Linked DNA regions of Homo sapiens: region 2 is linked to region 1. The links come from fine-mapping of genetic effects on gene expression. Tissue or cell type: uterus. Region 1 holds a variant in brackets; the other region holds the start of a gene. All regions are shown on one strand. Distances are from middle to middle.

The links. PIP is the estimated chance that this variant, and not a neighbour inherited with it, causes the effect.
Region 2: ANKK1 starts here. The variant in region 1 is fine-mapped to the expression of ANKK1 in uterus (GTEx, PIP 0.97).

The regions. Positions count from the first base shown.
Region 1 is chr11:114,297,473-114,305,558 of GRCh38, forward strand. NNMT (nicotinamide N-methyltransferase) reads left to right here. Exons shown (of 3, transcript NM_006169.3): 2 at 479-686. Among named protein-coding and RNA genes, the nearest start is that of NNMT, 5.1 kb to the left of the region's middle. The variant G/A (reference allele first, on the strand shown) is at 4,438.
Region 2 is chr11:113,383,597-113,391,682 of GRCh38, forward strand. ANKK1 (ankyrin repeat and kinase domain containing 1) reads left to right here and starts at 4,183. Exons shown (of 8, transcript NM_178510.2): 1 at 4,183-4,473. The coding sequence starts at 4,289.

The DNA.
Region 1 (8,086 bases):
AATATGGGATTTTTTTTTTTTTTTTGGAGATATAGATCTCACTCTGTTGCCTAGGCTGGATGGAGTGCAGGGATGTGATCACAGCTCATCATAGTCTCGAACTCCTGGACTCAAGGGATCCTTCTGCCTCAGCCTCTCCAATAACTAGGTCTTCAGGCACACGCCACCATGCCTAGCTAATTTTAAAATTTTTTTGTAGAGATGAGGTCTCACTATGTTGTCCAGGCTGGTCTCATCCTCCAGGCCTCAAGTGATCCTCCTGCCTTGGCCTTCCAGAGTATTGGGACTGTAGGCATGAGCCACTGTGCCTGGCCCAGAAAAGATGTTTTAAAAAAACATTTTGAGGGAAAAGTTGTGAACAGTAGTGGTCTGTCTTTGAGGATCGCCAGCACAGTCCCAGGGAAGACAATGTAAATTTGACTCTGCCCACTGCCATGAGATGCCTGATCTCTCCTCTTTGTTCCTCCCACTAATCCAGACGGTGTGAAGGGAGACCTGCTGATTGACATCGGCTCTGGCCCCACTATCTATCAGCTCCTCTCTGCTTGTGAATCCTTTAAGGAGATCGTCGTCACTGACTACTCAGACCAGAACCTGCAGGAGCTGGAGAAGTGGCTGAAGAAAGAGCCAGAGGCCTTTGACTGGTCCCCAGTGGTGACCTATGTGTGTGATCTTGAAGGGAACAGGTAGAGAAACTGGTGTCTACTTCTTGGCTTTTGAAGGTACCTGAGTGATGGTTGGCAAAAGCAACAGACAGATAGGGACCAAAGAGAAATCCAAATGGAGAATGAGTGGTAACGAGAGAGCGAGAGCAAGAGAGATGAGATAGGCCCATGTGTGTGCATGTTAGTAAATTTGTGTATGTGCACGTGCATGTGTGCACCAGAGTAATGGAAGACACAGGGAGAGGGTTGAAGAAATGGATACTGAGCAAAGAGGAGTAAACCCCCAAATTTTCCAGGCCTTTGGGGACAAGAGCAGTGTGCAGTCAAGTACCTTGGGACCTAGGTTTAGGACAGCTGCAAGTAAAAGGCTAACCCAGCTTCTCACCAGCAGCTTTTGGATGTCAGTGCTTGTCCCTTGCCTCACTGCCATGCTGCTGTAGCCATCCAAGCCTATAGAACTTGGCTGTGAGTGTGGCTAATGCTGACATCACCAGATACAACCAAAATCTGACTAGGTTTTTAAACTGAGGTAAGAAACATAAAGGAATTACTTGAAAAGAATTTATTAATCACCATCCATGAAAGTAGACTTTGTATACTTACAACTAATGGTCAAGATCTTACACTACCACATCTACATGTAAATTTATGCAAATGAATCTCATTTGTTCATGTAAATTTTAATTTCTTCCAACACGAGAAATTGGCAATAGCCTATTAGCCAGAGGTAGCCACGCCTGCAATTCACTGTCTTTCTCATATCCTTATGCACTTCCATCTTCTGCTGATTGTCTGACAATATCCAGTCTGTTCCCCAACTGACCATTCACTCCTGGAGCAACATTTCTCTGCTGCTATGCATATTGCTGAGACCCCACAGACTTCTTTGCAAGCTGCATAAAAAGATGAATGTTTGCAATTATAGTATCTGCAAATAAAAATAGGTTTTGTTCTTCTATTCCAACTTTATGCTTTTTATTTATTTTTCTGCCCTTATTATGTTGGCAAAAACTTTCAATACAATATTGAATAGAAATGATGACAGCAGACCTCTGTGCCTTATTCCATATTCTAGGATAAAAAATGTTCAATGATTTATCATTAAGTATATTAACTATTGGTTTTTCATAGATATTATTTATCAGACTAAGTTCTGCATTCCTAGCTTTTTTGAAATTTTAATCAAATGTTGAATTTTGTCAAAATTTGTTTGCATTTATTAAGATGGTCTTATGATTTTCCTCCTGTATTCTGAAAATGTGAATTACATTGGAAAATTTTGAATGTTACACCAAAGTGGCATAAACTACTTGGTCATGAAGTATAATTGAGCTATAATTTTCTTCTAGTGTGCTTCACAAATTTTGATATCAGCATGATGCTGGCTGGAGTCATAAAATGAGTTGGGAGTGATATCCCCTCTTCTATTTTCTGAAAGAGTTTGAGTATTATTAGTATAATTTCCTTCTTAAATGATTGATAGCATTTACCAGCGAAGCCAGGTGAATCTGAAATTTTTGTGCGAGAGAAGACTTTATTAAAAACAGTATTTCTTTAATGGTTACTTGGATTTTCCGTTTGTTCTTTTGTCTGTTTTGGTAAGTGGTACTTTTCAAGAAGTTTGTCCTTTTTATCTTGGTTGTCAACTTTATTGGCATTTTTTTTTTTTTACAATATCCTTTTAATACCTTATTATGTCTGTAGGATCTGTAGTGATCTCTCCTCTTTCATTCTTGATATTGGTAATTTGTCTTGTTTTCTTTCTGTTGTCTTGATCAACCTTGCTACAGATTGATCATTTTATTAATCTTTTCCAAAAACCAACTTTTGGCTATGTTGATTTTTCTCTATTGTCTGTCCATTTTCTATTTCATTGCTTTCTGCTCTTATTTTTGATCACTTTCTTTCTTCTAGTTATTTTAATTTTAATTCTTTTCTAGTTTACTTTATTTTTTTCTAGCTTTCTAAAATGTCTTGTTTTTAATTCTTCTTTTAGCTTCTTAAGTTGGAAACTTATATCATTTATTTCACATATCTCTTTTTCTAATGTAGGCATTTAATGCTGCAAATTTCCTTTAGCACTGTTTTAACTGCATCCCATGATTCTTGTATGTGGTATTTTTATTATTTTCAAATTCAGCATATTGTCTCATTTCCTTTGTAATTTCTTTTTTGACCATGAATTATTTAGAATTATGTTGCTTAATTTCCAAAGTATTGGGATTTTTCTAGCTATCTTATTGTTATTGCTTTCAAATTAAATTTTGTTGTAGTCAGAGATTTATTTTGTGGCTCTGCATATGGTCTATCTCAGTAAACGTTCTATGTGCTTTCTACATTGAAAAGAGTGTATATTGTTCAGTTGTAGATATAGTTTCTATAAATATCAATTAAGTCAGGCAGGTTGATAGTATCATTCAAATTTTCTACATCCTTACTGACGTTTTGTTTACTTTCTCTGTCAATTACTGAGAGTGTTAATGTCTCAAACTATGATTGTTGATTTATCCTTTGCTCCCTATAGTTCTGTCAACATTTGCTATATGCATTTTGACACTTGTTTTTAGCTCTGTTATATACATTTTTAGGATTGTTATGTCTTCTTGATGAACTGACCACTTTACCATTGTGAAATATCTCCCTTTATTTCCAGCAATGTATTTGTCTTGAAGTCTACTTTTTCTGATGTTAATATAGCTACATCACCCTTCCTATGCTTGCTGTTTTGCATGGTGTGGTGGGCAGCCTCTAAGATGGCCCCCAATAATCCTTGTGTCAGTATTTTCACCTTTGTGTAATCCCCTTCCCTAGAATATCCACTGGATTTAGTGATTCAGTACTGACAAGTTTGGTAGAATGCAGCATAGTGATGGGATATCAATTGTGATATTAAATTAAAAGGACTACAGCACCACTACACACCTATTAGATCTAGGCCAGAATCTGGAAGACTGACAACACCAAATGCTGATGAGGCTGTGGGGAAAGAGGAACTCTTATTTATTGTTCGTGGGAATTAAAAATGGTGTAGCCATTTTGGAAGACAATTCGACTATTCCTTGCAAAACTATTCAATCTAGCAGTTGCACTCCTTGGTATGTAACCCAGAAAGCTGCATGTATTACACTCCTCAGTATGTAACCCAAAAAGCTGTGGTATGTCTACACAAAAAGCTGCACACAGATGTTTATAGTAGCTATATTCATAATTGCCAAAAATTGGAAGCAACCAAGATGTCTTTCAGTAAGCGAATGAATAAATAAACTGTGGTACATTTAGACAATGGAATAATATCCAGTGCTAAAAAGAAATGAGCTATCAAGCCACGAAAAGACATGGAGGAAATGTAAATACAATTACTAATTGAAAGAAGCCAATCTTAAAAGGCTACATGTATGATTCCAACTATATGACATTCTGGAAAATGCAAAACTAGGGAAGAAGTAAAGAAGATAAGTGGTTGCTAGGGGTCGGGGAGGGAGAGATAAATAGGTGGAGTATAGAGGATTTTTTAGAGCAGTGAGACTACTCTGTACAGTACTATAATGGTGGACACATGTCATTATATATTTGTCCAAATCCATGGAATGTACAATACCAAGAGTGAATCTTAACGTAGATTACAGACTTTGGGTGATAATGGTATGCCAATGTAGGCCTTCTGCTTGATTTTGCGGTGAACCTAATATTGCTGTAAAAAACAAAATCAATTTTTAAAAAATGACAGCTTTTTATTGGGTATTCTGTCTCTATCTCACTCTCTTGTCCTGGG[G/A]AGTGAGCTTGGAACCAAATTTCCCCCAGTTGAACCAGAAAAAACAGAGAAATAAGTGTTTGTCATTTTTAGCTGCTAAATTTTGGGGATAATTTATCCTGCAGTTACATATAACTAATATACATGATATATCTACATATCTTTTTCTACCCTTCTGTTTTCAGATTATGTTTTCTCTTTTTAATCCAGACTGACAATTTCTGCCTCTAACTGGATTGTTTAGTCCATTTACATTTAATGTAATTACTAATATTACAGGGTTGAATTTAAATCTACCATCTTGGTATATGATTTCTATCTGTCCCATCTGATTGTTGTTCACCTGTGTCTTTCTTCCTGTTTTCCCTTGGTGAATGCAGTAATTTTTAGTATTCCATTTAGTATAAGTGTACATATTTTTAGTATTTATTTTTTATCTCCCCTGTTAACCTCTTCTGTGTCTTGTGTGAGTTTGTGTGGTTTTTCTAGGAATTGCAATATGCATCCTTGACATATCTATTGTCTCATGAAGGATGTAAGATATTCCAAAAGTGTAATTTCCTTAACCGACTTTCCTGGCCCTTATGTTCTTGTCATGTATTTTATTTCTATGTATAACACTATAATACATATATTGTTATTAGTTTTGCTTTAGTTAGTAGTGATTTTATTTATTTTTATTGTCTTATTTTTAATTTTGATTTTTAAAATAAAATTTACCATCTTTACTATGTTTAAGTGTTAGTTGAATAGTGTTAAGTATAGTCACATAAGTCAGTATACAGTTTTAAACAATGTATATAACAATATATATTAAACATAGGAATTTTGGACTGAATGTTTTTATCCCTCCCTCCCAATTTCTGTGTTGAAATCCTAACCCCCTTATGATGGTATTAAGAGGTCGGGGCTTTGAAAGGTCATTAGGTCATGGAGGTGGAGACTTCATGAATGGGATTAGTGCCCTTATAAAAGGAACCCCATAGAGCTCTCTAGCTCTCCTTCTGCCATATAAAGGTACAATGAGAAGTCAGCTGTCTGTGGCCCAGAAGAGTCCTCATCAGACCCTGACCAGGCTGGCATCCTAATCTCAGACTTCCAGCCTTTAGAATTGTAGGAAATAAATTTCTGTTGTTTATGAGCCACCCAGTCTATGGTATTCTGTTACAGGAGCCCAAACTAACTAAGGCTATATTATGCATATATTTAAGATCTTTTATATTTACCCACATATCTTTCTTCTCTAGTGTTTTTCATTCCTTTCCCAAGATCTGTTCTTCTGTTTGGCATCATTTTCCTTCACCTGAAGAACTTATTTTAGTATTAGTTATAATGCAGTTCTGCTGGAGACAAATTCTCTTAACTTATCAAGTCGGGTAAAAAGTTAGTAATTGTTTTCCTCCCTGCTAACTTGAGGAATTTAACAATTTTTGATAACCAAAGTCCCCTGGCATCTCTCTTACCAGTATTTATTATTGAAATCTGAGATTTTAAAGTTCAAATATTGTAATTTAAAGTATTATTTTTATATTTTCTTTCAAGATCAGTTTGGACATTTGCTTTTGGTTTGTAATCAAATTTAGAATTATTTGGACATATTTGGTGCTCATTTTATACAATTTTTCTAGATATTGAGTCTTTAATTTTGGTTCATCTGTCAACTGAATAGATCTTCAAATATTTATTTCAAGAGGAACATACAGTGACGTGTTTTCTAAGTCCATGCATATATGAGAATGTATTTTGTCACTCTTACACATGAACAAAATCATAAAATTGTTTAAATATTGCCCCACTTTTTTTCTGACATGTAGTAAGAAGTTGAGAGAGGCTATTCTATTTTTTTTAGACAGGGTCTTGCTCTGTCACCCACACTGGGGTGCAGTGGTGAGATCTCACTGTAGCCTTGACCTCCTGGGCTCAGGTGATTTCCCACCTTAGCCTCCTGAGTAGCTGGGACTACAGGTCCACACTGCCATAGCTGGCTAATTTTTTGTAGAGATGGGAGTTTTGCTCTGTTGCCCAGGCCGGTGAGAGCCTATTTTCATATGCATTTTAACCTGTATACCCCTGACTTAGAATTTTATATTGGCTATAGCCTTCAAAGTGGGGCTATATTCTTCAATATAAAAATAATTTCATACACCTTTTTTTTCTGTTGACTATGTGATTCTACAGAATGAAATTGATATTAACTAGAAACAATTGCAGCTATGACAATTTGGACAATATCTAAAGTTATTTAGTAAATAAGGAAATTCCCAGGGTTTGTAGAATCTCAGGGAAACTTTGTAATAAGTAAATAAATCTTCAGTCACTGTTAGACAACACACCTTGCCAAAGTCCAAATCATCTGTCAAGAAGGCCTTTGAAACTTTGTTCTCACTTTCTGTATCCACCACCGGCCTTTCCATCTCATTCAAAAATAAACCCTTACAATCTAGCAGGATAGTAAAAGCATTACTTATCTCACACCTGAAATGTCAGCTTGGAACAACTAGCTCTTGAGACACTGTCCCCTCCCAATCACTCTGTTGGACATTGCATTTTTGGCAGTAAATTTCTGCATTCTTATCCTTATCCTTGTGCTAGATCCTGTGGCTTTAATTATTTTAAGAATGATAATGATCCTATGCAACTCATGTCTTTCCTGCATCTTCAAGTAGCTTTATCAACCTACAACCTATTTCCTTCAAGATGATTTCTTCTTTATCTGAAGTTTTTTCTTGTGCTAAAGGCTGCCAAAGACGTATGTACTGTCTCCTGTTCTTCTACCTCTGCATTTAAATACCACTCATTTTAAATTAGCTGGCCATAGTGGTGCACACCCGTATTCCCAGCTACTGGGGAGGCTGAGGAGAGAGGATCACTTGAGCTTGGGAGATCGAGGCTGCAGTGAGCTGTGGTCACATTCCAGACTGGCTGGCAGAGTGACACTCTGTCTCAAAAATAATAAAAAATAATAATAAAAATAAATAACCCTCATTTTTACAACTATCCAAAAAAGTTTTAAGAAAGTCAAACACTAAGATACAATTACTCAAGCTTATACAATGAACAGAGGAAAATGAGCTCTTTCCTTAAGAAATTGTAGAAGCTGCATTACTTAACCTATGGTTCCTGGAACTTGGAATGCATAGCTTAGGCTTGTGGTCCCTGGACTAGTAGTTTGACAACACGTGGGAGCTTTTAGAAATGCAGGCTGTCAGGCCCCACTAGCTACCTACAGAATCAGAACCTTCACTGTAAGATCTGCTAAGGGTGGTATGCACATTACAGTAGAAGAAGCACTGGTGTCTGGAGCAGGGCTTCCCTCTAGGTGTGCCAGGGCACACACACAGGTGGGTGGGAATCAGTTGCAGGCATGCTGTCCAAGCTGTTTTCCTTGGCCCTCTTGACAGCAGGTGGGGCATGGACCACCTCCTGGTTGCCTCTGTAGAGAGTGGCTCCTCCTTTTTTTTTTTTAATTTTTTATTATACTTTAAGTTCTAGGGTACATGTGCACAACGTGCAGGTTTGTTACTTATGTATACATGTGCCATGTTGGTGTGCTGCACCCATTAACTCGTCATTTACATTAGGTATATCTCCTAATGCTATCCATGCCCCCTCCCCCCACCCCACGACAGGCCCCGGTGTGTGATGTTCCCCACCCTGTATCCAAGTGTTC
Region 2 (8,086 bases), 910 kb before region 1:
ATTGCTGGGTTGTATGGTAATCATATGTTTAGTCTTATAAGAAATGGCCAAATTCTTTTCTAGAATTGCCATACCATTTTACATTTCCACCAGCGTATGAGTGATCCCATTACTCTACATCCTCATCAGCATTTGGCGTTGCCACTATCTTTTCAGTTTTATTTTTAGCCATTCTGATAGGTAGTTAGTGATATCTTACTTGCATTGCTTAGTGGCTCATGATATTAAACATTTTTTCAAGAACTTATTTGTCATCTGTATATTCTCTTCAGAGAAATGTATTTTCCCATTTTCTAATTTGATGCTTTTTTAGCATTGAGTTTGAAGACCTCCTTATATACTCTATGAACCAGCACTTTGTCAAATATGTGCTTTACAAACATTTTCTCCCCATCTGCACTCTTCTCTTCACCTTCACCAGGTCTTTCACTGAGTGAGAGTTTTTCATTTTGATGAGGTTCAGTTTATCAATTTTCCCTTTTATGGATTGTGCCTGTGGGATTCGGCCTAAGAACTTTTCATCTAATCCTAGGTCCAGAATATTTTCTCCTTTTTTTTTCCTAAAATTTTTATAAGTTTACATTTAATATTTAAGTCCATGATTCATTTTGAGTTAATTTTTCAGGTGTGAAGTATCAGCTGGTTCATATTTTTTGCCTAGGAGTATTCCTAGTATATACCTAAGGAATGTAACCTTTAAAAATATACCTAGTATTTAGATATATTTTATGGATGATAATCATAATAACCATTCCAAAAGGTTGCTGTAAGAATTATAACCTTTAAAAATATCCTAGGTATATTAAACTAATATGATATTATATTGTATTTTTATGTTATATTAGTATAATATTATACTAATATACTAGGTATATTTTTAAAGGTTATAATTCTTATAGCAATGTTTTGGAATGGTTATTATGATTATCATCTATTTTACAGATGGAGAAACCCAGAAAGATTTGATAATGTGACCAAGGTTAAACAAATGCTAAGTGATAGAAAGAAGCCAGGGTTTAAATGCGGGTCTGACTGACTGACTCACTCCCACATTTAAACCCTGTTCCTATTGCCTCATTCAATCCCTTTCACTCTGGGAGTCCTGCTTCCTGAACAGATGTTCCACTTTCCTGCATACATTCCTTTATCCTGACCAACCTCAGTACACAAGCTACCAGAGGCTGGGGCCTGCCAGAACCTGTCCAGGGTTCTCCGTGACATGTTTGCAGGGTGGAGAACAGGGGCAGACTGGGAAACTTCCCTATATGCAAATAGCTTGTCATTCCGGTTTGGGGAAAGGCTCACATCAGATTTCAGCATCTTCTAAAGTATTGCAGAGCTCCTGTACCAGCTCACTTGTCTGGGAGGAGCAGGCTAAAAATCTTAGGTTCCCCAAAGACAATCACACATACACACAAAATTCATTTAATAACTCCAAATCCAGAACACTTCCATCTTCAATCTGCCCAAACAAAATGCACTGATAGAGGTTAGTTGGAAGGACTCAGAGCATTTTGGGGTAAAACTTCTATAGCTAGAACCTGTTCCTTGCCCCTTCTGGTGGGTGGGGGTCATAATTGGACTATAACCACTTCATTATCCATTCCCATTTGTAGGTAGATATGGGTAAAGGTAGAGTTTCCCTCCCAACCCCCCAGCTCTCTCCCCTCCACACACTGGCTGCTGACTTCCCAACCAGCCAGGACCTAGGGACTTCTGCACTCAGACCACTGGAAAGAAACCAGCAGCCTCTGAGTTGACTTTACTCTTTTGCAAATCCCTATACCTCACCCCACTTTTAATGAGAGATCCAGGAGTTCTTTGCCTCTGTGACCTTATACTCAGAAAGGGTCCCTCCACTTACAACTTCTCCCAGAGCTTATCCAAAGACTACTAGGCCTTTGCCCTAGCCCATGTTAGACAGCTGTAAGGAGCAGGACAAGCCCAGTCAAATGATCCAGTCCCTCTGGGTCAATGAATGTATCTATTTTGACTGACTCCTCAGAAGCCTCAGGGGTGCTTGAACCCACAGCAGAGAGTTTCAACAGGTGGGTCAGCAGTAATACGCCCTGACCCTGCAGTTCCTCCACCTCCACCCCTGTGAGAAATTCAGAGGTATTTTGTTCGGGATTCTGGCAACATGCCTTGAGCCCTGGGTGTCCCCTCTTCTAGGAATGATGCTTTCTTCAGTATTCCTGTGACAGTCTCTGCAGGCAGACAATGGCAGCTTCTGGTTACTTCCTCTCCCTGGAGAGCCACTTCAGGTATAAGTGGATCAAGGGGAACTGCTGAAATGACTCAGGCCATTCACCCTTGGTATTTCCTCCAGGAGCTGAGATAGGTCTCGCTGAATGTCAAAGATCGGGCCTCAGTCAAACTTCCGCAGAGCTGGGTGGCTGGTCACCTTCCCAGTCTCCATGTTCACCCTCCCAGTAGAAGGTATGAAACATCCTCTTGACCTCCTGGTCTCCCTGATGACAATGTCCTTTATCACCTTCCAAACTTCTCTGGCAGAGGCTTTAAACTTGGGCAGGCAGGGCTACTCCAGAGACAATGGGTTCTGTTATGCCCTGTCTTGCTCCAGCCAAAGCAAGCTGGGGGCCTCCCTCTGACATATGTTTGGGGGATACGTCCTGCTCCTGATGCAGTTTCCATCATCTCCACCCTCTTCCAGGGAGCATGACTCTCTCTCTTCCTTTTTTGTATTCATAAAAGGCTACTCCCTGATCCTCCCCTGGCCAACCATTTCCATAGAAACTAAGAGACTTGAGTTTGAATATCAACTACCACTTACTAGCTATGTGTCCATTGATTACTTATTGTCTTGAAGCCAGTTTCCTCATCTGTGAATAGAAGATGTTGACCTCATAACATTGTTGCAAGATAAACAGGATAATATATGTAAAGCAATGCAGTAACTGAAATAGTCACTGATCCTGGAACAAAGTGAGTGTTCAATTAGTAGTGGCTATCACTAGTTTCTATGACAACTGTCTCCAGGCCCAATCTTTGATCCTTAATCTGCTTGCCAGAATTCATCCTGGAAGTTGCAGGTAAGTTGTTACAGAGGGAGCAAGTTCTCCAGCTTCCACAGGGAGTCTCTGTTTGCCTATCATGCCTACACTGTTCCCTGGGAGTCTGGTGGGCTTGTGGCATGGACGAGGGGCTCTGCAGGTTTGGGCTGAAGGCAAGGCACTTCCTTGTCTGGTAGGTAGGCTCCTCAAACCTAACAGTGATCACTCTGAGGGCTCCTTGTGGACTTACTCAGCTGTAGGCAAATAGTGGCTGACTCTGCACTCCGTGGCCACAGTTCCTCCAGGTATGCCTGTCTCTGGGCAATGGCCCACTTGGTCAGTGCCCCTGGGGAGACCTGTCTGTTCAAGCACTTGTCATTTTCCCTGCTCTGAGGGTCTCCAAGGTGAGAGGGCAATCCCATGGACCCAGGACCCAGGGGAACCTCCAAGCTCAGCACTGGTCAGGCTCCAGCTAGAGCCTCCTCTCATCCCTGGCAACAAACTGCCCCTAGTAACTGCGCCAAGGAGGCCACCTCCCCCGTGGCCACCCCGAGGCTGGGGTCCATCCCTCTGAGGTTGGATAGAGCGCAGCCCAGGAAGGGAGTCCCCTGCAGACAGGAGCCCAGCCTCCCCCGCAACTCTGTCCCTGCTGACCCCTCCTTGGTAACCTATAGCACACCAAGGCTGGCTAACAAACAAACAAACAAAACCCCAACAAGAACAAAGGAAACATGAAACCAGTCAGACCAACAGATTCAGACCAGAAAATCCCCATTAAAATTGTTTGAGCCCCATACTTGCTGGATAGGGGCAGGGGTCCAGGCCTGAATCCTTCATAAACCATAAAACCTTGAATGCACTGAAGGAATGCATAAACCGATTTCACTTAGCGCTGGGCCTAAATAAACTGGATCCAACTTCTCAGGCTGGACTTCTTCCAGCTTCGGGACACCTTCTCCCAGCATCCCTCCCTAGGGGGAACTGGGGAAAATCAAAGGCTGAGACAGGGGAAATGCGAGGGCTTCGGAGGGACATACCCTCTTCCCCAGGCCCAGGTCGCTCCATCCCTGCTGGGGCCTCAGGGCTCATGTCTGGGATTTCCCCACCTTTGCGGGGCAGGAGCGGCTCCTCTTGGGCGGGGAAGGAGGCAGGGCCGGCTCGTCTCCCCATTCCCCTCTCCCGGACCCGAGGAGCAGGAAGCGGCGGCTCCTTCGGCCACCCAGGCAGCAGCCACAGCGGGGAGTGCGCGGCGCGGGGACAGGAAGAGAGGGGCAATGGCTGCCGACCCCACCGAGCTGCGGCTGGGCAGCCTCCCCGTCTTCACCCGCGACGACTTCGAGGGCGACTGGCGCCTAGTGGCCAGCGGCGGCTTCAGCCAGGTGTTCCAGGCGCGGCACAGGCGCTGGCGGACGGAGTACGCCATCAAGTGCGCCCCCTGCCTTCCACCCGACGCCGCCAGGTACTGCCAGCCTCGCCCTCCCCTTTCTCGGAGGAGAAACTGAGGCCCGGCAAGCTTTGGGCCCAGGGAGCTTGCGAGGAAGGAGTGGGCTGAGTTTGGGGCTGAGGACTGTCCCCCGCGGTATTTCTGAATTCCACCCAGTAGCCTGAGCCTCCCAGGCACACCCATACCTGTCTCCCTAACCAAAATAGAGTTGGCACATAATACCTGTTTGTAGACTCAACAGAGGTCAAAGGCAAGCGGGAACTACCTACCAAAGACGCCTTTATCCCATCTGACCTTCCGAACTTGTCCTGCCTGCTTCCATCCTTCTCTCCAGCGCCTTCTTCCCCCGGTGTCCTGTGGCAATAACTGCTCTTGACCGCTCTCTGCCATCCTCCTACCCACCCCAGCTCTCAGGGCAGGGCTGAGCATCCTGGGAGGCTGTGGCACTTTGCTCAGATCTGCAGGGAATCATGTTCTCTCTTCCCACGGTGGCGGGAGGGAGGAGGCCCCTCCCAATCAGTGCAGGCTGAGGAGGTCAGGGGATGGAGACTGCCCGGCCTGATGGCCTGTCCAGGCCCTTGGAGGGTCAAGTCTGGAGTTCTCTCATCTCTGTTTTTGTTTTTGTCCCTTGCTGTCATGCGCACTACAGCGACGCCTTGACATGCCCCTATTTTTCTCTTCCTACCTCTTTCCTACGTTTCCATTATTCTCTGTCTTCCCACTGATTTGGAATCCAGTCTCATTCCCACTGGAGTTGCATATACTAGCTGTGTGCTTGCACCTTGCAGCCATGAAGAAGACACTCGGGATGTTAAACCTGAGCATGATAACCATGTCCTCCTCCCAAGGCTCTGGGACATCAATTAGAGAGTCCGGGACGGGGGTCTCTCTGACTGGCATCTGGCTTGGATGCTATCTGTGGTTCTCTAGGATTACCATGCAAACTCTTAAGATACAGCCTCAGGTGCCACACACTCAGTTCCCAGGCCTTCCCCCACCTTATGAGGAGAGGAAAAATAAGATCGCCTAAGGCCCACTCACCTTCCTCCCTCAACATCTGCCTGTTGGTTTTGGAGGAGGGTCAGAGTATGCTAGGATTTGTCTAAATCATTTATAGCCTTTTGAATATAGAACGAAAGGAAACAGATGGCAGTGACATGATTACACTGTGAGACATTGATGCTAACTCCTGCCACTTTCCCTTCCCAAGTTCTGGGAATTCCCTGGGTGGAGGGGGTAAGATAATTAATGGTAATTAAGACTTAGTATGTATGGATTACTATACTAGGAGCTTTACGTGCATTACTTTACTAGATCCTCTTTCCAGCTATTCATTCATTCATCCACTTGACAAATGCTTACTGCTCTTCTACTATGTGTCAGGCACTGTTCTACACCCTGGGATTAACGATGAATGCAACAGATGTGTCCTTTCTCTCCGGGAGATTGCAGCCTAGGGGGAGGAAGACATTAACCAGATAACCCCACATGTAAATGTAAATGTGCTACTGTGAGAAGCTTAAGAAGGGGAGATTTGTGGCTCTAGGAGAGCTCATTAACAGAAAGTTTGACTGATATCAGAAAAGGCTTCCTTGAAGAAGTTACACTACAGCTGAAATGTGAAGAATGAGTATAAGTTAAGTAGGTGAGGAGGAGAAAGTTTTCCAAGAACAGACAACAGAGTGTGCAAAGAATCTGTGGCAAGAGGGGCATGGTAAGTACAAAGATGGGAAAAGGCCATGATGGCTGGAGTTGGGAGAGTAAAAGAGCAGTGGAAAACCACTGAGCATTTACAACCAGGTAGCGGTGGTGACCATGGGAGGGATTAATCAGAATTGCAGTATGGAGAATGCATTGGGAGGGGTAGAGTGGATTCTGGTTAAGTTAGGAGATTGTTATCTTCATTCTGATGAGAGACGGATAATAGGGGCTAGAGTGGAGTGTTGGTAGTGGAGATAGGAAAGGAATGGGTCAAGCCATATTTAGAAGGTAAAAATCCACCCGACTTGGTGCTGGATTAGTCATGGGGAGGATCACGATGAGGAAGAGGGGTATTAAAGCTAACTTGATGTCTGGCTTGCCCAAAGGAATGGAGGATCCACTAAAATGTCCACTCCATGAGAGTGTCTGTTTTGGTCACAGCTCTGTCTCCTGTGCCTGGCACAGAGTTGGTGTTCAATAAATATTTATTGAATGGCAGTGTTGACAATTAATGGAGAGACTATGAAAAGAGGCCTAGACTTGGAGAGGAAGATCATGAGTTCAGCTTTGTACCTGTTGAGTTTCAGATGCCTTTAAACAACCAAGAAGAGTTGTCATGGACATCAGAGTAAAGGTTGGTGCTAACAATATTAAAACTTGGGAGTCATTTGTTATAAGTGGTCATTAAAACTAGGGCATCAGGCTGGGCCTGGTGGCTCACGCTTGTAATCCCAGCACTTTGAGAGGCCAAGGCTGGTGGATCACCTGAGGTCAGGCAAGACCAGCCTGACCAATATGGTGAAACTCCATCTCTACTAAAAATACATAAATTAGCTGGGCGTGGTGGTGGGCACCTGTAGTCCCAGCTACTCAGGAGGTTGAGATAGGAGAATTGCTTGAACCCAGGAGGCAGAGGTTGCAGTGAGCCAAGATCATGCCATTGCACTCCAGCCTGGGCAACAAAAGTGAGACTTGGTCTCAAAAAAAAAAAAAAACAAAGCAAAAAAAAGGCATGGAGGAGATGCATTCATTCCAAGCACTACGTGAAAAAAACAAAGTCCTTGCCCTCATGAAGCTTATAGTCTAAAGGAGGAAGACAAAATAAATAGCAAATGAATAATAAACTTTTTAGCTATAGCACTCATGACCACCTGACAGTTCTTGATTAAAATATCTAAGAAGGGTTGAGAAGTCTGATTTTCCAAGAAATGGGTTGGTCTAAAAATATTAATGCCAGGGCCCTCTGTGTATGGGGAATATAAGAGTTGGAATGGGGTTGCTTTTTTATGTAGACTTCTCTGTGAAATCCATACTAATTAGGTACCATTTGAGTAGAGATTTGAAGGAAATGAAGGGGTAATCCATGTGGCTCTGTTAGGGAGGAGTGTTCTAGGCAGAGAGAACAACAGGTGCAAAGGTCCTGAGGTGGGACCACACTGGGCATGGTGGAGGAACAGTGGGAAGCCCGTGTGCCAGGGGCACAATGAGAGGAGGGTGATTAGGAAAGGAGGTCAGCAAGCTATGCCTGGCATTGGGGACAAATCTTGTAGGACTTTCTCAGCCATGAAAGAACTTTGGCTTTTACTGTGAATGAGGAGAGCCATTGGAGAAGGGCAGTGACATGTTGTGACTTAGATTTTAAAATATGACTTTGGCTGCTGGGTTGAGAATAGATTGTGGAGAGGAAGCGGGAGAAACAGAGTCCAATTAGGAGGCTTGGGCTGAGATGCACCTTGGGGGAGAGGTGGTGAGAAGTGGTCAGCTTGTTGCTCGACAGTATTTTGAAGGTGGTGCTGGCAGGATTTGCGAAGACTTGGCTGTGGGAAGTGAGAGGAAGAAAGGAGTCGAAGATGACACCAGGGTCCTATTCTGAGGACTAGAAGGACAGAGGCCCCATTCACTGAAATGATGAAAACTAAAGGAAGAG